Linked DNA regions of Homo sapiens. The protein of the gene in region 2 purifies or fractionates together with the protein of the main gene of each other region. This does not show direct contact. Each region holds a gene or a part of one and is shown on either strand. Other genes may lie near its edges. The genes, in order: SHPRH and HLTF.

Region 1 (11,485 bases), on a different chromosome or scaffold from region 2:
TGAGTAGCTGGGACTACAGGCGCCTGCCACTATGCCCAGCTAACTTTTTTTTTGTATTTTTAGTAGAGACGGGGTTTCATGTGTTAGCCAGGATGGTTTTGAACTCCTGAACTCAAGATCTGCATGCCTCAGCCTCCCAAAGTGCTGGGACTACAGGCGTGAGCCACCGCGCCTAGCCGCATTACTTTATTTTTTAATAAACTTTGTGTAGCATAAGTGTACAGTGTTTACAAAGTCTACAGAAGTGTACAGTAATGTCCCAGGCCTTCACATTCACTCCCTGACTAACCCAGAGCAACCTTCAGTGTTATAAGCTGCATTCATGCTAAGTACCCCACAAAGGTGTACTATTTTTTATCTTTTATACCATATCTTTATTGTACATTTTCTATATTTAAATATGTTTAAATATACAAATACTACGGTGTGACAACTGCCTACAGTATCCAGTACCGAATATACTGTACAGGTTTGTAGCCTAGGAGCAGCAGGCTGTACCATAGAGCCTAGGTGTGTAGTAGGCTGGCGGTACCACCTAGGTTTGTGTAAGTATACTCTTAAGATGTTCACACAACAAACTTGCCTATGATGCATTCCTCAAAACACAGCCCCATCATTAAGTGATGCATGACTATAAATAAAATTAAATGTTATAAACTCAGCTCTTCAGTCTCACTAGCCCCATGTGCTCAGTAGCGCTATGTGACTAGTGGCTACTGTACTGGACAGCACAAATATAGAGCATTCACATAATTGCAAAAAGTCTATGTATCAGACAGTGCTTGTTTAAGTCAATCATGAGAATTCTATTCCCTTAGCCCGTGCTTCACTTATGAATGTGCAGGTGATGGATTAAAATCAATCCTTGGCTATGGTCAACTACTTTTAAAGCATCTTATCCTCTCTTATCTTAGTGGAATAATATAGAAAGCTCTTAATTTCCTAAGTGTTTATGTTTGTCCAGTTTTCCTCAAAGCATAAGCTGGAATACTGAAAGTGGGTCACTCTGCAGGAACTTTAAAAAGTTATGCTATAGTAGCTTATCAGTTAACTACTGCCACAAACATGCTGTGTAACACACTACCTCAAAGCTCAATACCTTGATATAGCAATCATTTATTCTCATAGATCTGCACATTAGCTGAAGGAGGCTAATCTAGGCTAGGTTTCTGGAAAAGCAGTTTGGCTCTGCTTAATGTAGTTCCTATCCCCTCTCCTTGGATCAGCAAAGTAACTCAGGAATGTTCTTTATGGCAATGGTTGAGGTGTATTACTGCAAATCCAATCACACAAGTAGTTTTCAAAGTGCTTAAAAACCACTAAGGTGCCACAGACCAAAGCAAGACATATCCATGGACCCAATGTCAAGTGGTGAAGAAATATACTACACCTCTTTACTAGGTGAAACTGCACATGGCAAAGAGCATGGATATGGGGGGTGGAAGGGTAGAGGGAGTGTTGGAAGGGAATTGGGCCAGTTACACAATGTATCACACTAACCATAATAATATTAATAACATGGTTATTGTGGAATCATTAACTCTGAAAACCCAAAAAGCAACTGTCTAGCAGAGTCTCACATTAGCAAAGCGATGTGGCTTAAAGGTGAGAATGCAATGCTTTGAAGTCTTATATTCATTCTAATTCCAGCTTTGGCATTTACTGACTGTGTGGCATTGGAATAGTTATCCAGTCTTCTGTGCCAATTTTCTCATCTCTAAAATGGGGATGATAGCAGGATTGTGGTTAGAAATAATTTAAGTACAACAGCAGTACTAGAAATTTGGCCTGTATTCCATAAATGGTAGTTGCTACTTATCATCATCCTGAGAACACTCTAAACCAGCAGTTCCCAACCTTTTTGGTACCATAAATGGGTTTCATGGAAGACAAGTTTTCCATGGACCGGAGGAGAGGGGTGGAGTGGAGAGGGGGTTGTTTAGGGATGAAACTATTCCACCTTAGATCATCAGGCATTAGGTTTTAATAAGAAGTGCACAACCTAGATCCTGCGCATATGCAGTTCACGATAGCATTCATGCTCTTATGGTAATCTACTGACTGTTGATCTGACAGGAGGCACAGCTCAGGTGGTAATGCTCGCTTGCCCGCAACTCACCTCCTGCAATGCAGCCCGGTTCTAACAGGCCACGGACTGGCACCGGTCCATGGCCTGAGGGGTGGGGACCCCTGCTCTAAACCACATTTCACAATAACCAAACTGTAATGTCGCAGGATGGGGGACCACAGATTAGTGCTTCTCAAACTTGACTGCACATTAGAATCACCAGGGGAACTTAAAAAAATCCTGATGTCGAGCCAACTAAGTCAGAATGTCTTGGAGAAGGGCCCAGGCACTACTCCCTTTATTTTTTAGAATCCCTAAAAAATTCCAGGGTGCAGCCAAGTTCAAAAAACCTTGTTATGGATAACCAGCTGCCAACTAAAATCCACTTATTTCCACTCAAAGTATAGAGTAGTTGAGAAATGACTGCCCAGCTTGGTTTGGTCCTGTGACCAGTCCTAGCCAATGGAATGTGAGAAGTAATATGTGCCATGTTTCCCACAATAATTTTGTAACAGACATATTACCAAACCAGAAAACATTACTTCAACTATTTATTCTGTTCTCTGGTAAAACCTATCCAGTATCTTTTAAATTATGTACACCATTATAATTTGCACATTCCTTCAGATGTATTCTTTCAGCCTGATTCTTCCAATATTAGTGCCTCAAGGTACTTATCAGTGATAATGATAAACTGCAGAAAAGTCAACACCAGAATTTCTAGCAATGCTCTCCCTTTGTCCAGTTCTTAACTGAGTAAACATTCATGATCAAAAATCAACCAACCAAACAAAAAGCTCCTGGTTTTGACTGAGTCTTTACTTAAGGAAATCTCTATTCAGGGTTAACTTCTTGAACCAAAGAAAATAGTATTTGGTCAAATATACTTATGACTAAAATGCAATTTGGCAACTAGTAAGTCAAGTACTGGTGAAATTCTGTATCTAACCACATCCCATATTCTTCTGGTTTTATTCATACCTTATCAGTCACAACTACTTCTTCCTCCTCCTTAATTAGCAGTGTTTGGGTAAAACGTAATTATGTGAAGTTTTCTATATGGACCGCACTTTTACTGTCTTGTATTTAAATATAAAAGCCTTTTGCTTGAATTGCTTTTATGCCTGTCTCCATCCCAATCTTCCCTGGAAAGGCTTCCATGACTAGAGAAGCTGAGTTAAGGGCCTCTCTCTCCTCGATCCCAACTGCTAGAGTGTTCACTTTGAAAGATGGGCAGGAGTAGTATCCTATTCAGTGTTGTACTCCCAATGCCAGGTCAGTGCTAGGAAGTAAAGACATACAAAAAGGGTGAAACAAAGATCTCTAATTCCGTGGATGTATTCCCTCCTTTTGAGGACCTAACGATACTTTACTCTTATTTCTTTTTGGAGAAGTCTCTCTTATCCACATTCTAGAAGACTATAGGTAATATGAAACTAGTATTTCTGAGAAAAATGAAATACTAGAACGAGGCAGGGAAAACTGCCTGAACTGTATCTTTAACAGAAAACAAGGATGGAATGCTAGAAAAATAAACATAAAATGTTACATTACTAAGACAATCCAACAAATGAATAACACAACTTAAATTCACATTTTTTCCCTCCAAAATATTATTTCCTCTTTAAAAGATACACACAAATCTTGAATTACAACAAATCCATGGTAGATCTGGGTTTAGGCTATTAAGGGCAAAAAGGATTACATACTTGCCATATTCCTGTCCAAAATGTTGTGTTATGGAAATGAAGCCCACTCATTACTAAGTACTAGGAAGCTCTTAATGACCCAGGGTTAACATAATCTTTTCCTTTTCTGTAGAAATAATTCCAGCAAGGTGAGAGTATTTTCTTCTACTGAATGCTAAAATATGCTAGTTACATAAACTTTAAAAATGCCCTCATAAGAAGCTTTTTCACCAGCAAATTGTTTCCCCTAAATCTTACTGGCCTAAACTCTTAATAATAAAAGTTTTGTTTTAATAATTCTGTAAGTCCAGCTCCTTTCGGGTGGACAAAGAGGATATACAAGAGCATCTCTCAAAAGTAAACTATTTTATTCTCAATTGCCAGCTTACTGGTTAACTGGTCCTTTAAAGCTCTAGAAAGTGCAGGTTATCGAGCACAGACATAATCATTACAATACTGCTCAGGACTGCTCTGTCTCCAGCATGTTTACTAATCATAAACTAAATAGTCTTTTTTGTGACAGTAGAGATATCATGGATCGTTTCTATTCAAGAGTTTCATCATTCCTACTAATGCCCACTGGAATAATTTAAAGTAACAGTAATAACTTTATCTTATTTTGTTCAGAAAAAGCCCCAAGTTCCTTAAGTTCCTTAAGTACAAGTTGGAAGGCATCAAACATCTCGGATTTCTACCTCGTGCTAATGTCAAACTACTTGGAAAAAGGGCACAAGCTTCCTGGTCATTATTTAACTGATCATTATACAGTGACTATTAATCATCAAATAACACCCTATCTTCGTTCATAAACATAGCAACTACCAGTCAAACTGTACAATGTCAAAGAGTGGTTCTGAATTCGAATGTAATTAATCTGGCTCCAAAGGTAACGGAGAACTTTGAGTGGGACTGAGAAACCTCTGCCTCCCCTTTTACTAATACAATGCCGCGCACAAAGAAGGGAGGCGGCGACCCAGTTCCAGCCTCCGGGGGTAGATCTGCGGCGCACGGTACCCACTCAGTTATCTTCCGAAAGACCCACAAGCGGCTCCCGGAGTCTGAGCGGGGCTGTCAGCGCCGGATCGCTCCCAGCAGGCCGAGCAAACAAGCGACCGCGAGGCCAAGGAGCGTGACGACGGACTCCCGGATCCTAGTGTGTTGGACGCTCGAGACAAACACCGCAGGCCCCAGTGCATGAGGAGAAGCACAGCCTCCTTTCCCACGACCCCACTTTATCCCCGGAGGGACGTGGTGGTCCGAAGTTCGCTAGTCCGGGATCGGGAAGAGGTGGGGAAGACTCGCGCAGCGGCTCCCTCTCAGCCCTTGAGCTTCCCGGGCTCCAGGACAACCAGCGTCCTCCCTCCCTGGTCCCGGAGGCCAAAGACCACCTCCCTCCCTCCCTCCCGACCTCTGACCCCTGACCTTCCATCACCCAAGCGCCTACCCAAGCTGGTTCTCCGAGCCTCTTGAGTCTGTTTGCACCAGGCCTGCGCTCCTCTACAGACCCAGCAGATCACGGGCACGCATTCGCCACCCACCGAACATGGGCTTGAGGTGGGCACGAGCGCTTTTTGCCGGAACGTGTAGGGGTCCCCCGGGAGACCCAGAAACCACAGCGCCTAGCTGCCGGGCGCGCGCTGTAGCGTGGGGTCAAGGCGAACGCGCTCGTCAGAGCACCCCGCCCCCTTTCTCCTGCGCTGGCTTCATGAGTCTCTTCTGCGCAAGTTCACACTGTTAAAAACTTGCTGAGGATACAGTGGAGTCTCGCGATAGCTCTGCCCCACGCCATTAGAGAACACAGGATGGCCGAATGCCCGAAGTAGGGGGCGGGGCTCCCCTTGAAGCGAAGGGCGTGTGTGATTTGTATCTCTAATAAAAAGGCAGGGGCCAGGAGCGGTGGCTCACGCCTGTAATCCCACCACTTTGGGAGGCCGAGGCGGGCGGATTTCCTGAGGTCAGGAGTTGGAGAACAGCCTGGCCAAGATAGCGAAACCCCGTCTCTACTAAAAATACAAAAATTAGCCGGGCGTTGTGGTGCGCGCCTGTAGTACCCGCCTGTAGTCCCAGCTGCTCGGGAGGCTGAAGCAGGAGAATGCTTGAACCTGCGAGGCAGAGATTGAGTAAGCCGACATCTCCCCACTGGGTGATAGAATGAGACTCCGTCTCACAAAAGAAAAGCAGAAAAGAATTCTGCAAAAGCATCTATTTTACTGCTATAAAGCAGCCACTAAGTAGGTACGAATAAAGCTTCTCCCCCTCAAAAACAGACTTTAAAGGGAAATGTGAATAAATATTCAAAGATGAGAGAAACTATTAAATACATGTGTTGCGCTGAAGCTGGCCTTCCACTATTGGTCTTTTTTCCTCTCACCTCTTCCTCATAGAAGTGACCTTAATGTTGGAATAACTCTGAGAGGCTTCAGGGTCAGGAGCCTGTGAAATAACCCTCAGGAAACACTGGGGACTCAGTACTTAGTTAGTGAGTACCTAATAGCAGCTTTTCTGCTGTGGAGGCCTTTTGGGTTGTGTGACCACAGAAGCACTTGAACTAAGTTCTTGTCCAAGTGAATATCGGTTGTAGTTGTGTTAGACAGTCCAGGGTAGTCCATATTTTACTTAGTATATTCCTTTATCACAGATACGAAGCTGTTTCCATAAGCAAATCCCCGCCTCCTTTTATTTTGCTTCCCTTTATTGTACTTTGCAGATAATATGTTTTCCTATAAATTGAAGTTTTTTGGCAACCTTACTCAAGCAAGTCTGTCAGCATCATTTTTCAAGCAGCATGTGTTCACTTGCTGTTCATCTGTTATGGTGATCTATGATTAGTTATCTTTGATGTTACTATTGTAGTTTTTTGGGAGCATTACAAACTCTGCTCATAGAAGATGCTAAACTTAATAAATGTTGTGTGTGTTCTGAAAGCTTCACTATTGGCGCCTGTCTCTCTTCCTCTCTTCAGGCCTCCCTATTCTTTGAGACACAACAATATTGAAATTAGGCCAATTAATAACCCTACAATGGACTATTAAGTGTTCAAGTAAAAGGAAGGGTGGCACATCTCTCACTTTAAATCGAAAACCGAAGGAATTTAGTGAGGAAGCCATGTCAAAAGCTGAGATAAGCCAAAAGCTAGGCCTCTTGTACCAAAGTTAGCTAAGTTGTGAATGCAAAGGAAAAGTTCTAGAAGGGAATTAAAAGTGCTACTCCAATGAAAACACAAATGATAAGAAAACGAAACAGCCTCATGCTGATATGGAAAAAGTTTTAGTGGCCTGAATAAAAGATAAAACCAGCCTCAGCATTCCCTTAAGCCAAAGCCTAATCCAGAGCAAGGCCCTAACTTTTTTCAGTTCTGTGAAGGCTGAGAGAGGTGATGAAGCTGTAGCAGAAAAATGTGAAGCAAGCAGAGGTTGGTTCATGAGATTTAAGAAAAGAAGCCATCTCCATAACATCAAAGTACAAGGTGAAGGAGCAAGTGCTGATGTAGAAGCTGTGGCAAGTTTTTCAGAAGATCTAGCTAAAATAATTGAAGCAGGTGGCCACACAAAACAACAGATTTTCCATGTAGATAAGACAGCTTTCTATAGAAAGAAAAGGCCATCTAGGACTTTCATAGCTTCTAAGCTTCACAGGACAGGTTGACTCTCTTGTTAGGGGCTAATGCAGCTAATGACTTGAATTTGAGGCCAATACTCATTTATCATTCTGAAACTCCTAGGGCCCTAAAGAGTTATGCTAAATCTATTCTGTCTGTACTCTATAAATGGAACAATGAAGTGTGGATGACAGCACATCTACTTAACAGCATAGATGTACAGGATATTTTAAGCCCACTGTTCAGACCTACTGCTCAGAAAAAAAAAAGATTCCTTTCAAAATATTACTGCTCATTTATAATGCACCTGGTCACCCAAGAGCTCTGATGGAGATGTACAAGGAGATTAATGTTGTTTTCATGCCTGTTAACACAAAACCCATTCTGCAGCCCATGGATCAAGAGTAATTTTAACTTTGACATCTTATTATTTAAGAAGTAATAAGGCTATGGATGACATAGATAGGAATTCTTCTGATAGATCTAGACAAAGTAAATTAAAAACTTCTGGAAAACATCCACCATTCTGTATGTCATTAACAACATTTGAGATTGGTGGGAGAGGTCAAAATATCATTAATAGTAGTTTAGAAGAAGTTGATTCCATCTCTCAGGAACTCAAAGTCTCAGCTTTGAAGGGATTGAGACTTCAATGGAGGAAGTAACTGCAGATGTGGTGGAAACAGCAAGAGAGCTAGAATTAGAAGTGGGGTCTGAAGATATGACAGAACTGCTGCAATCTCATAGTAAAACTTTAATGGATGAAGAGTTACTTCTTATAGATAAGCCAAGAAACTGGTTTCCTGAGATGGAATATACTCCTGGGAAGATACTGTGAACGTTGTTGAAATGACAGCAAAGATTTTAAAATATTTCATAAATTTAGTGGACAAAGCAGTCCAGAGTTTAAGGGGATTGACTTGAGTTTTGAAAGAAGTTCTACTGTTGGTAAAATGCTATCAAAGAGCAGTTCATATCATGGAGGAATATTTTGTGAAATAAAGAGTCAATTGCTGCAGCCAACTTTTTTAAGCAATATTTTTTAAGCAAGATTTTTTTTAGCAATACAATATTTTTTAAGTTAAGGTAGATACTTTTTTTAGACATAATGCTATTGCACACTTAACACACTACATTGTAGTGTCAGTGTCACTTTTATATGCACTGGGAAACAAAAAAAATATCCTGTGACTTACTTTATTGCAATATTTGCCTTATTGTGGTAGCCTGGAACAAAACTTGTGATATCTCCAAGGTATGCCTATAGATGGAAATCAGTTACCTTATTCCAGGATTTATGAGGCAAGCTGGAAAAAGTAGTGCTAATGCTGGAACAGTGGGCAAGTAGGATCCTCCTTCCTTGGCAAACCAATCATTTTATCAAATACAAGGTGATGTAACCTTGCTTCTGAAAGTGTAATTTGCAACTTGCTATTTAAACATATGATGTGCTGAGTAAGGTTATCTTTGATAGTTTTATGTCACTTCTCATCATTGGAGCAGATAATTAGGCCCAAAGTTTGGCTGAGTCTATCCAACTAGTGCTAGGCAGAAATATTTAAAAATAAGCACAGCATCATTTCACCTTTGTTCACCTTGATTGGGGTAATTTATATATGTAATCATGGTAATGTCCATGCAAGATATTAAACTTCAGATCCAGTTGTCTGTCGTATGGAGATGCAATTTCAACTGTAGAGATGGAATTCTGTATACTACCATTCAGTGATTAGAATGAAACAAAATTCTTTTAAATTTTCCAGTGTTCAATCCTATATTTACCAAATGCTCTGCCTATTCTTTGAAAAATTTCTCTCTGGAATAATATTTTTCATCAGAGCTAATTTCAGAAAACATGGTTCATGATTGCACCTTGGCTCTCTGGCAGCTCCCAGCTGTGAGACACCTGTTCACCCCTGAGTACACTGAGTTCATCCACCTATTAGATGCTAGTGATCTAATGACATTCCGCAAATCAGAATGAACTGATTGGACATCGTGCATCTTGACAGTGAATAACTCAGTGTTCACGGAGTTCATCTGCTCCTTCTTGAAACTATAACATGAGATCAGTCAGACCACTTTCTTCCTTGTATGGTCTCACTAGCTTTAGCTGTAGGTTCATTTTCTTTTAGGGACAGTGGCTTTATTCTAGCCATACCCCTAACTGGGGCATCTATTTTACAAATGAATATTCTAAGTTGTTCTCAAGGAGGAGGACTAGTTGAGAGGGAGTAGAGGAGTTAAGACAAATTTAACTCCCTTTAGGGACAGAAACAAGATAAATGATGATTTATCAGTGAAGAACTTTATATTTTGCAAAGCCCTTTTATGTTTATTTTTTTATTTGATCCCTAGACTAGTAATAGGCTTTTAAAATTTCCATTTTACAGGAGAGCAATCTGAGACTCAGAAATTTGGTAATTTGCCACAATTTAGCTGTAAGAGAACAAGAGGACCTAAAACTCTTTATTCCTCTGTCTAGGCTATTGTCTCTTATTACTAAATCATGTTGTCTATCAAATAAAAATATACAACTTAGTCCTCAAACTTACTAAGTAATCATGGGCAAACTGAAGGCAAGAGGTGTGTCATTACTTAATGACATAGGGCTTGTATATCAACAATAAGGATCATTCAGTACAAACACTGTGTTCTCCTGAATAGATCATTAACAAAATGACTAGAGAAATTTATTCTGTATTCTACCTACCTTTGCCAGCTCTCTGGAAACAAAGTAGGTGGCCCACCCAGTATGATTGGGGATTCCCAAAGATGACTCCTTGTTGCCAATTCCTACTACCAACCTGTCTTGGGACTGCTTTCCCTTCTGACAAATTGAAAATATTAGGATCAAAGTCTCCGCTATTCTGGAATGAATTACAACGTCCAAAACCACTGGTAGAATGCATGTAGTACCAAAAAAAGAGTGGGAAGAAGAAACATGGTCTTGGAAAATTGGTGCTAGCAGGGGTCATCAGCTATGCTGAAAGGAGTGGTATCAGATCAACCAAACATAAAATGGTACCAAGGGTCGGACATGCTTTGCAGGAGCATGAGCAGGATATATCAGGGACAGGAGGTGTGCGAATTGAACCCAAATCCTCATATTTAGAACTTTACAGCTTTTCCCTAGACTAGACCTGGGTAGATTTAATTGTTAATTTTGTTTCATTTTTCCTTGATGATTTACAAGTTGGATTGGTTTCAAGCCCAAAGTTTGTTCGGTCTCCCCTGCTGCAAGCTCAGCCTGAAAACTAAAACCTCAAGCTGTGTTCCTTCTGCCTCTCATAACTTCTAAAGCAAAACTTGTAGTCTGTACACAAAATGCTGCAATGGACATGAACCTATGACAGTGTTTGTTTTAGGTGTGAATAAAGCAACGATTTAAATTAGGTAAAAGCAAGAAGGTTGAAGGTGAATCTGCTGGTAAGGAAAGATAGGAGATTATATTCAGTGTTTAACAATGAAGATAGTATAATCTGTATCATAGGCTCTCCTTCCCACCATCCCAGAGCCTCCCCACCCTCCATACCCAACTGTTACATTTTCCCCTAAGGCATATTTTTTCAATTAATCTTGTCAGTATGGTGTTAGGCATTAAAGAATAGGAATATTGTCGACGACTCTGTCGATACTTATGACTCTGAGTAATATTTATTATGCAGTTTTGAGATCTACAAGTAAAATATTCTCTGAGTATTTCAAGGGTCACAATCGTGTCATTTTGAAGTACAAAAATAGTGGATAGCACTTTCAGAATGCATCTAAGACCTCAAGAAATCTTTTTTTTTTGATGTATATATATAAATTTATTATACTTTAAGTTTTAGGGTACATGTGCACAACGTGCAGTTTTGTTACATATGTATACATGTGCCATGTTGGTCTCCTGCACCCATTAACTCTTCATTTAACATTAGGTATATCTCCTAATGCTATGCCTCCCCCCTCCCCCCTCCCCCCACCCCACAACAGGCCCCAGTGTGGGATGTTCCCCTTCCTGTGTCCATGTGTTCTCATTGTTCACTTCCCACCTATGAGTGAGAACATGCGGTGTTTGGTTTTTTGTCCTTGTGATAGTTTGCTGAGAATGATGGTTTCCAGCTTCATCCATGTCCCTACAAAGGA
Region 2 (11,570 bases):
GCAAAAGACTACTCATTTAAAACAAAAAATTAAGACTGAAAGAACACTCTAATAATCTGAACCCATTCCATTTCCCCTCAAATTCACCACTAAAAATAAAAAGCCAGTGGTCAACAACAGAACACTAAAATGACAGGAATGAAAGCAGAATTACGATTTTGATATACTGTGTATATTTCCTTATATAAAGGTAAAACAAATACTCAAATATTTGCACATGAGTACTTTACCTTTGAACTGGATGTCCATTCCATATCAGACTTTTTCTCACTGTCACGTGCTAATTCTTCTGGAGGACATTCTAATAAATTATCTTCATGTATATCATTTCTGCATAAAGGGCATTTAGCATGTGGCTATATAAGAAAGAACGAAGTATGAGCAACACTTAACAGAAGAACAAATATAAATATGCCTAAAAATTTTTAAATGTATGCTAAAATCTGTATCTCTCATAGCTAACATTTTATTAAACCTTTTAATGGATTTCATCCATTTAAGAGACATCTGAACATGCTGAACTCCAGACATAATGTGGTAAGTAGAACGGATAAAGGAGGGAGCAAAAGTATGTGATCTGGACTAGCTAGAAGCAAGAGCAAGAAACCAAAAATTATAACATTGTAAGCAAGTTTAAAAAAAAAATCTATGAATAACAATTTATTGAACCTAAATACAATACAGCTACACTATTTAGTACTATTCTTTAAAAAAAAATCCATCTTAATGGCTTATAAAGCTATTAAGCTTATAAAGCTTATAATAGCTTATAAAGCTACTAGGATCTGTTAAATCCTATCAAGTTCATTCCAAAGCAACATCTGTTGTACCCGTTTGAACCTGTTAATAAAATAAGATTATATCTTAAATAACTATATATAAAACACCATTACAATTAAATAATTCTGAAGCTAAAATTATTTAAAAGTCAATACAGTGGGGTTACTTTTGGGGAAGAGGGAGAGGGTAAATGGTTGGGAGGGGCCACAAGGGGACCTAGGCAGCAGATACAGGAATATGTTTACCTCATAATTGACTGAGCTATTTAATTATGAATTTATACATTTTTTCTACATATGTTATATATCAATTTAAAATGTTTAAAAAAATTCTACCCCAGCTGAATGACTGCTTAACAGACTAGTCAACTTCAAAAAAATTCTACCACACAAAAGAATCTAGACCTACCTTATCCAACACAATAGCCAATAATCACATGGGGCAATTACGTCCTTGAAATGTGGCTAAGCCAAATTGAGGTGTGCTGTAAGTATACACCACCACCAAATTCTGAAGATTTAGTTTTTTGTAAAAAGCACATTAATACTTTTTATATTTTAGATATATTGGGTTAAATACAAATGTATTAAAATTAGCTTAATGTTTCTTTTTACTTAAGAGTATGACTACTAGAAAACTGAAAATTATCTTTGTGTCTCACATTATCAATCCATTTATTGAACAGCAATGATATAAACAGCGGAATTAAGATATTGACTGTGAACATCTTTTTATGTTGCAAATGTTGCATTAGAAGAAATATATCACCTATTAAAATACTGGAATAATTAACTATCAAAGGTATATTATTAAATCCAAGTGCAAAACTCCATATACTATCTTTTATTATATTAAAGACAGGTACACTACTCTATCAAACACTGAACCTGTACTGAGCAAAAAACTAACCTGCTCATTCTGAATGACTTGGCAAATACAGGGTTTACAAAATACATGTGCACAATGTGTTATCACAGGAACTGTTAAAGAATCCAGGCAAATTGCACATTCCTCATCTGAACCTGAGCTCAGAATTAACTTCATCTTCCTTATTAACTTCTTTCTCAGTTCTTCAGGTGTATCATTTCCTAGAGAAAAGGCTGAAAAATTAATTTCAGAGCAAGGTTTGTAATATGACAAGTTAATCTATCTTATAAGGAAAAGTTTCGCTTGCCAGTAGGGAAAGTCTCTCATCATTTTCTGCCATAGGCAAAAAGCATAATTTAAATTTGAAATTTAAGAAACATTCAGAAGCCAAAATAGTAGCCAACTCACATAATATACCTCATAGAGAAGCATCATTATAACATGACAATAACATACCACCACACAATAAAAGGCAGATCCAATATGAATCTTTCATCAAAGGGTATCTATCACCGGAATTCCTGGAAAGACCTCATTATAATTCCATTTCATTGGTAAAAAAATTATTGGATGTATTCCTAGCTGAGTCTCACACTAAAAGCAATCTCCATTTGACAGAACAAAATAAACTAAATGTATGCCACATAAAAAAAATTTATCACTCTTATTTAAGTATCTCTGACAAATACAATGATATGAAGCAATCAAATTTACCTACCTGAGGGGCCATTGGAAGACACTGCATTTGTAAGAAGGTAAGTATGGCAACAAATTTGCCGCAGTCTAAGCAAAAGACCCAGGACATCTGCATAATGTGCCAGGACAGTCCCTTCATTAAAATACCTAGAGATTAAAATGTCAAATATTATTAAGTCCGCTAAACAATAATAACTTCCTATTCTAAAACAGCAGAGTAAAATGGCATTTTTCTTTTCTTCTCTAGAAATTACTCCAAAACAAGAATGAAAAGCAGAAAAGCAACTCTAATAAAACCAAGAGAGATCTATAACAATAAGGCACAATATATGAGAAATGGCTGCCAATTGCAGTCTAAGTCAGATAGGAAGATGCTGAGAGGGATGACTGCAGATCTCAAACAGAGCTGCCAAAACACAATTCTTTAAAATGGATGGCATGCCCTGAGGGGAAAATCAATACCTCTCATGTGCAGAAACAGGAACAGGGTGCATGCTTGGTGACTTGAGCTTCCATGGAGAAATTTATATCAAAAAAAGAGGGAAGGTAAACTGAATACAGAAACATACAGGTGCACTGTATTTTCAAAAAAAGACTATGGGCACAGCACTCTACACTCCAAGCACCCCTAAAGTTTCTGATCTCTGTTTATGTGTACTAATAAAACCTAAAGTAACTCAACATGTAACCCTGAGTCTTAAGTAAATTGGGTTATTTCCTGCTGGTCGGGGACATGATTGTGACCTTTCCCTTTTGTATATCTGGACTAGCAAATAGCTAGTCCAAGAAGAACTCAAGATATTCAAATATAAGTAATAATCAGCAGAGAGCAAAGGTAGGGGACACATGGCAGTGAAAGAAAACTCAGCAGAAAAATGTTGCCACAGAGCAAATAAAAATTATGACCAAGGATACTGTCACAATTTAACACCACTCAATAAAACAATTCCTCCAAAAAAAAAAAATCTTAAAGCAAAGACAAAGAGCTTTGAAAAAATATGGCAAGAGAACAGGAAGAGATGAAAGATGAGCTGGTATGGCTCAAGAAAGTGAAAGAAAACAGTGAATCATCAGAGAAATGAAAGTCACACTGAAACCAATATAAGCCAATATAAAAAAAGACTAGTCACTGATAAAAACATAGAAAAGGATGTAGGAAACAGGACTGAGAAAATCAAAATTAAACAAAAAAATGTAAAAGATCAGAAATAAAATGATACCTATGGAACACAGATAAAAGACATCTAACATACACAGAGAGAAATAAAATAATGGAACAGAAAACAATATTTAAAGAAAGCTTTCCAGGAAAGAGAAGGGGGGAAAAGCCTGGAATCTAAAGATTTAAATAATATCACATGTCCCAGGGGAAAGTCAACAAAGAAGTTGCTGAACTTCAGAGGGAAAAAAAAAAAAAAAAAAAAAACCAGGCTTCCCCACAGAAACATTCTATACAAAATACAGTGGTACAATGACAACATAGATTCTTAAGGAAATGGGTGATCCAAAAATTATATAACCAGGCCATCTGATATTTAAGTATTTTAAGGCAACAGAAGAAATATAGCCTAACGGCTAAGAGTACAAATTTTTAGAGCTAGCTGGTCATGAATTCAAAACCTGGCTGTGCCAATTTAATTATGTAACCTTGGACAGGTTGCTTAACCTATGTCTTGAGCTTCCTCAGTTCTAACAGTGGCATTGTAAAAGTACCTACCTCATACAACTACTGTTATTTAATTTAATACATGTAAAGTATTTAAAATAGTGCCTGGACTATATTAAGTGCTATACATGAATCTGTTGCTAGTATTAGTACTGGTAGTATTATGGCAACAAACATTTCTGAATATTCAAGAATGCAAGGAATAGGCAAAATAATACAAAGATTAAACTTACAAGCTCTAAACCAAAGTGCCAGAGTTAATCTGTCCTGTCACTCACTAGCTGTGTGACAACAGTGTAAGTCACCTAAACTGCTCTGTGCCTCAGTTTCCTCACTTATAAGATGTGGATAATTATACTGACCTAATAGGATTGCTGTGAATACATTTAAAGCACTAAGATCAATGTATAACACCTAGTGAGTGCTAAATAAATGTTAGTAAATATATAGCCTATTAAAAAGAATACTTTAAAAATAACTTATTTTCTGAGAACAGTTTCAATAAAGTTAATCTTTTTCAACTTTTTCAAATAGAATAACCTTTACTAACACTAATTATTCCCTGGCATGGTCATATCTTACTGATACTCAGCATTTCAATTTAAGAGATCTCTTTTGAGTGCCTACCATGTGCTAAATATTAGAAGCTTCCTTCCTCCTATTTCACCAGCCATTGCTATCTTCACAGTTAGATCTCTTTCACTTTACTCACTCCCTTGGTGATCTCATGGCTTTAATTACCATCCACACATAGCTGACTTTGAACTCGACTCTCCTATCCAACTAATTATTTGATATCTCTACTTGGAAAATTCACGGGCATCCTATGATCAATGTGTCCAAAACTGAGCTTCTGATCTTAGCTTAAAAAAATCTCTGCTCTTCCCATAGACCTGTCTTGGTAAACAGCAATTCCAGCCTTCCACTTATGCAGGTAAAAAGGCTTGAAGTTATCTTTGATTCCTCTTTCACATGCCATAACATATCAACCAGCAAGTTCTGTTGGTTCTACGTTCACAATTTAACAGAATCTAATCATTTCTCACTCCCTTTATCACTACTATGGTAAAAACCACCATCATCTCTTGCTTTGACTGCCACTGGTCTCCCTACTTCTGACCTTATTCCTATTCAAATAACCTAAATCTGAGCACAGCAGCCAGAGTGATCTTTTAAAAATATAAATCAGATTACGTCCCTCTCCTGGCTCAAAACCCTTTAAGGTTTCCTGTCATAAAAAGTAAAAGCCAAAGTCCTTGACATATGCGTTACATACCCCCATTCCAATAAATCTCTGATATCATGACTATTTTCTCTCGTTCATACTATCCAGCCACACTTGCTTCTCTGTTATTCTTCAAGCTCACCAGGCATGTTCCCAACTGGGAGCATCTACACTTGCTCTTCCTTCTGGCTGAAACACCCCTTAATCCCAATCTCCTTTAGATCTTTACCTATATATCATCTTCTCAGTGAGGTCTTCCTTAATACCCTACTAAAACAGCTTTGGCATTCCCCATCCCCTTTCGTTGCTTTATTCCTTAAAACTTAATCATGTTTTTAAATTATCTGTTTCTTCCCATTAAAATATAAATTCCTCGAGTGCAGGCATTTTTGTCTGTTTTATTCTGCTGTATCCCAATGGGTATAAGTGCCTGGCACACAGTGGGCACTTAATAAATTTTTGTTGAAAGAATATGAAAAGAAAGAAGATTTTGAACTCAGAAATCTGCTGCTTAGAACAATCTTTCCCACTCTCTCTAATTCCTATCAAACCTGCTTTGTACCTACCTCACTGAAGTTTTTATGTTTTGAAGATTCCCCTTTCACAGTCCTATTCTGCTTTCACTTGTCTCTTATTCATTCTGTTCCCTGTGGGCTCACATTAAACCTGATCTTGCTTGGACCAGAATTTCATACCTTCTACCAATCCTTAATCTTCTTGTTAAACCTATTTCATCAGTTCCTATTTCCAGATTTCCATACGATTTTGGAAATAGAAGCAAGCAAAATCTTCTGGCTAGCAATTGAGAACTTGTCATTTAAAGTAAGCTTTAAATTATTTCCTAACTTAAAAAATTACTTACCTGGTGAATTATACTATTATTTCATTCACTTTATTGATTTGTAAAAAACACTGTAATTCATAGAAGCAAATTATCTTTCAGTATACTTCAAACTATTGCTAACACATCTAAATAATGTCATTCAGTGAATGGGAAACAAAGTAAACAAAAACTAATTTTTAACATGGTTTTCTTTCTCCATACCTTCCAATAGTGGCTCTGCCTTCATTTTTCACAGACTGATAAATCTTTCTCTCTTCATCTGAAAGTGTAATGTGCTGAATAAATACTTTACGTTCTGGTAACTCCAAAACAGGTTTTCCTTTAATTTTGCTTGTCTTTGTTCTTCTAAGTGTAATATTTTTAATTAGGGACTGTAAACGCCTAATCAGAATAAAACAAATAATTATGTAACTTTTAATTTCTACATAAATTGATCCAAGAAGAACGAAACAGAACATTTTAATTTGTTACTGTTTTATAGCTTCTGTAAAAGTGTTTTTAAAATCCCTTATTTGGGATTTTAACCAATCTGATAATCACAGAAGTATTCTACAAAAATAAAATTATTAAAACAAATGTATGGAAATTTCCCCTCAATACCTAACATAGTTTAATCTTTTTATATCCTGTCCTTATTTTCGTAAGTTCTGTTCCCCATTTTTGTTCCAATCACTAACTCTTTTACTTCTCAACTGTCCTGTCAACTCCATCACCGAATAGTCAACACTCAAATTCTAAGTATCTATTAAGTGCCAGGCACTGAATTAAATGTTGTAAGAATACAAATATGGGTAAGATACTACATTCTGTAATATTAAAATCAAAAGTATATAAATAAGTAATTGTATAAAGTAATGAGTGCCCCCAAAATAAAAAGATAATATGGTAATTCAGAACACAGAAAAATGCTTTACAGGTTCCACAATCTTTACATTTCTTTCTCAGTACTGGAAAAAAAGAGATGTATCAATTCTTGTTTTTTCCCAACATTGAAATATAAATACAATTTCCTGGAGTTTAAATAGTTGGTTTTGAGGAATCAAGTGGATAGTACTGCCAACTAGGTTAGTGGCTCTTGAAGCTTTCTCACTATAACTCACAGTAAGAAACACATTCTATCCAGCAAAAATATACAAACACATACAAAAGAAACAAATATTTCACAAAATAATACTTACTATGTATCATGCACTCCGATATTTACTAATCTCTTCTCTATTTCATTGTCTTTTTAAATGCTGGCTACCACCTTTATAATGATTTTATATCCCACTAATAGCTCTCAAATCTTCAGTCTATAAACCGGTGCTTTAGCCAAAAAGTTGAACCACATTACATCTTGCAAAATGGCTATCACTGAGTTTTAATTTATGTTCTCAACTTTTATCTATCTCCACCAGAAACAACCACATAAAACTTTCCTATACAACTTTTGCTAAGGTCATGGTACCTCACATCATTCACTATATAAAGCTATGTAAGGCCAGGTGTGGTAGCTCATGCCTGTAATCCCAGCACTTTGGGAGGTCGAGGCAAGAGGATAACCTGAGGTCAGAAGTTTGAGACTAGCCTGGCCAACATGGCGAAACCCCATCTCTACTAAAAATACAAAAATTAGCGGGGCATGCTGGCGCAGACCTGTAATCTCAGCTACTTGGGAGGCTGAGACAGGAGAATCGCTTGAACCCAGGAGGCGGAGGTTGCAGTGAGCCAAGATCGCGCCACTGCCCTCCAGCATGGACGACAGAGCAAGACTCCATCTCAAATAAATAAATACATAAATAAATAAATAAAGCTATATAAGATATGAAAACTTAATGCATATTAGATCCTCAAAGGATATACGATGTTTCCTGCTAAATCTGTTAATGCTGGTTTTGGGGCTTTGGGGCTTAGCAACACACAAAAAACAGTTATGTCTTTCCTTTCAGTTTAGCCACAACAGGGGAAGGGTAGTTATCGACAATTAGAAATCTTTGTCTTTCCAAACAAGCATCACTAGGTTCTGAAAGACAAAGGTACTGAGCCATAAACACTTTTTAGAAGGAAAAGTTAAGAGTCAAGTTAAAATAGTAAAGAAAGTGCCAACTGGTTCAAGCTACTAACAGTTATTTGTAACTAATATTAATCACTGTCTGAAAGTACTTACCTAAGTCCTCCTTCATCTCCCATTGTGACAGGACGCTGTATTGTTCTATGCCACCATTCTCTATCAATAAATGGTTTAAGTTTTAAAAAGGAAAGAAGAGACCACAAGTCCTTTAAAGAATTCTGGATTGGAGTACCTAGAAATAACAGGAAACTGTTATAACTCTTTAACCAGAGTATCCAGTAAGAGTATCTATTTGGCCCAATCAGAGAAGACAACAATTGAAAATGGGCACTCTGTACCAGGCTCATCATTATCAATTAAATTAAACTATCAAGTGTTGACTATAATCATTTATTAAAAATATACACATCTCAAGATACAGTTTTGCTCTAATTTTTAGCTCTCACATGACACACTAGCCAAGAAAAAGACTGGAAAATTCAACTTTCTCCTTATCAAGTACATCTGCTTATTTAGTTTTTAAAGCAGCAGCACTAGCAGAAGGAAAAAGCAACTAGTTTAAGTTTACATTCTTTTCCTTACCTTCTAGTAAAGGTACTGTGAATGGCAAACAGGTTTGAGGATGGGAAACAGAAATCAAGATTATGACTGGATGACTAGAGTGTCTACTCCATTTCCACTAGAGTGTCTACTCCATTTCCAAGGTTCAAGAATAAGTCTAGTGACTGTTCCATAAATTATCAATAAGTCAAATGTTGTTATATCACGGGCAATTATGAAGAACAACTCAAAACATTTGATTAAATTATTTATATGATTAATTTTGGGGCAGAATTTACACCCACTTTAAGTTTACAAAGTTACTTTACTAACTTACATAATGATATATTTTAGAGATTTAAGGTTTTAGTAAGTTTAATGCTATGATTACCTGTCAAAACCCATCTTCTTTCTGATTCTAAGTCAAGTACAGCTTTTGTCTGCTGAGCATTTGGATTTCGTATGGCATGTCCTTCATCCAGGATCACTCTTAGCCACCTTATGCTATGTAATGGACTATCTCCTTTAGTCTGAAATAAATGTTTTATATGAATTAAAAAACACAGGAAAGTAAAATAGTACTTAATATGATTTGCTAACTAGTTGTTATCATTATTTAATATCAAATTTACTATGTGCTAGGTACTGCTTTAAGCACTACATTAATTATTGAATACTCACAAGTTTATAAAATAAGTACTTATTAGCACACCTAATTTTACAGATAAGAAAACTGAAGCACAAACTGCTAAGTAAGTATGTTACCCAAAGCACCACAGGTGGCAGAACTAGCATTCAAACCCAAGCAGCAGTCTAGCTCTCTGTTGAGTCACTGGTCAATACACTGAACTGTTCTACCTCGGATTAAAACATAGCAATGATATAGAAAATGGCAGTTGTAAGAATTACTTGAATTCAACATTACTTTCTTTTATATAAAAGGTAATATTTTTACTAGAAGACTGAAATTTTGATAGCAAGGTATTTTTCAAAAAGTTTTAACTTTTGAACAATTGGAATTATAAAGGTAAAAAACAATTAGACTAACTGGAAAACTTATGAACTGTAACTACAAAAAAAGCATACCTTCAAACTGAGATATTAATCAAATCATTGTGATAGAAAACAATTTTCCAGAATATTAAAAAAGAAAATAAAATTCATTTACAAATTGCTTCATATACTTACAATCCAAATTTAAAATCTTAACTTAAAATGTTCTAAATGAAAAATATTCCTGTCTGGGTGTGGTGGCACACGCCTGTAATCCCAGCACTTTGGGAGGCCAAGGTGGGTGGATCACCTGAGGTCAGGAGTTCAAGACCAGCCTGACCAAGATGGTGAAACCTCATCTCTGCTGAATAACAAAAATTAGCTGAGTGTGGTGATGCATGCCTGTAATCCCAGCTACTTGGGAGGCTGAGGCAGGAGAATCATCTGAAACCAGGAGGCAGAGGTTGCAGTGAGCTGAGATCACACCATTATATTCCAGCCTGGGCAACAAGAGCAAAACTCCATCGAGAGGGAGGGGGAGGGGAGGAGTGGAGAAAAGAAAAATACTCCTAAATTAGCATCTAAATAAAATGCAACCCTTTCACGCAAAAAGTCAAAAAAAAAAACCATTTATTTTTCTATATATCGTTAAGTATCTAAAGAGAAAAAAAAAGTATAAAGCCTGAATTTTGGAACACTCTAGAAACCTGTGGCATATTTCTTACATTCAATCTTTAAAAGATCTGTTAAGTATCAACAATACTTACTCCATAGTCATGAGTTAAAATATTATACGTAGTCAAAACAATATCCTGTTTTGAAAGTAAGGCCGGTTCTCTAATACGATCAGGACCATAATAAACATAAAAATTCAAGTGTACATCTGATTTTATATGTTGTCCAAACTGGTCCTAAAGAAAAATTAGGAATATTTTTAACAATGAGCAGATTTGTGTCAGACTTAATAGATGTATAAAAAAGTAACTGCCCTGGCAGTAGTGTGACAAATCCAACTACTAAAATTGTATGAAATCAAGTTTCCTTCAGTCTAGACCAAAATAATAACAATAAGAAAAATGACACATACACAGTAATAATAAATTATTTAAAATTTACTTGGCCCTACCAATCAGCAACTGCTTCATTTTTAGGAGGAAAAACCAAAGTTATTGAAAACAATAATGAGTTTTATAAAAATATTTTAATTAGAAGGCCCTTTAATGCTGCATTAGTTAGCAGACTTAATAATATAAAAATTAAACAGTAAAAGAACAACAACCAATATTTCCAAGGATGTGGGCAGAGATTCAAGCACTGTAGCCACTTTCTTTCACTCATTTATTATTGGCCTACTATTTGCCAGGTATCAACCACAATAGTGATGTAACTAAAAATGAAGAACAAATAATCATCCCTGACTTTCTTGAGGACATGATCAGTTTTAAAAACTTATTATTATTTTTTTAATCATGAAAAAAACCAGACCTAGAAGATTTTCAGCAGAAAAAAATAGTCTGATTAAACTGAAAAGAGAAGATACCAGGGAGACACAGCTGGGAAGCTATGAGGAGAGAGATGATGAAGTCCTAAACCAGCAAGGTAGAAGTAGGAACAGGGTGGAAAGGACAGGTGTGAAAAACAGAAACTAAGACAAGACTGATAGGACTTGGGGACTAATGAAATATGAAATATGAATAATAATAATAAGACTAAGATGCTCTGATACTTGAATGACTACCTAGAATTGTGTGATAAAAATATAAGGAAGTTTAAAAAAAAAAAAAAAGAAGGGAAAAGTGGGCATCCAAGTAAGAAAGAGATGAATATTTTAGACCTTTATCATTTTTGGTCACTATAGAATACCTAACTGAAGACGTATACTAGGAAAATGTAAATAATTACCTAT

Evidence for each region.
Region 1: the proteins of HLTF (region 2) and SHPRH purify together in Homo sapiens (affinity purification with western blotting; 2 studies listed by BioGRID and IntAct, with this or other methods). This does not show direct contact.

The regions. Positions count from the first base shown.
Region 1 is NC_000006.12:145,958,957-145,970,441, forward strand, and holds the start of SHPRH (E3 ubiquitin-protein ligase SHPRH), read right to left. Parts: upstream 5,403-11,485; 5' UTR 4,775-5,402; intron 1-4,774. UniProt on the Homo sapiens protein: E3 ubiquitin-protein ligase involved in DNA repair.
Region 2 is NC_000003.12:149,039,801-149,051,370, forward strand, and holds part of HLTF (helicase-like transcription factor), read right to left. Parts: intron 10,576-11,570; coding exon 10,432-10,575; intron 9,202-10,431; coding exon 9,063-9,201; intron 8,364-9,062; coding exon 8,228-8,363; intron 6,460-8,227; coding exon 6,280-6,459; intron 2,491-6,279; coding exon 2,366-2,490; intron 1,881-2,365; coding exon of another isoform or gene 1,869-1,880; coding exon 1,690-1,868; intron 357-1,689; coding exon 231-356; intron 1-230. UniProt on the Homo sapiens protein: Has both helicase and E3 ubiquitin ligase activities. Possesses intrinsic ATP-dependent nucleosome-remodeling activity; This activity may be required for transcriptional activation or repression of specific target promoters.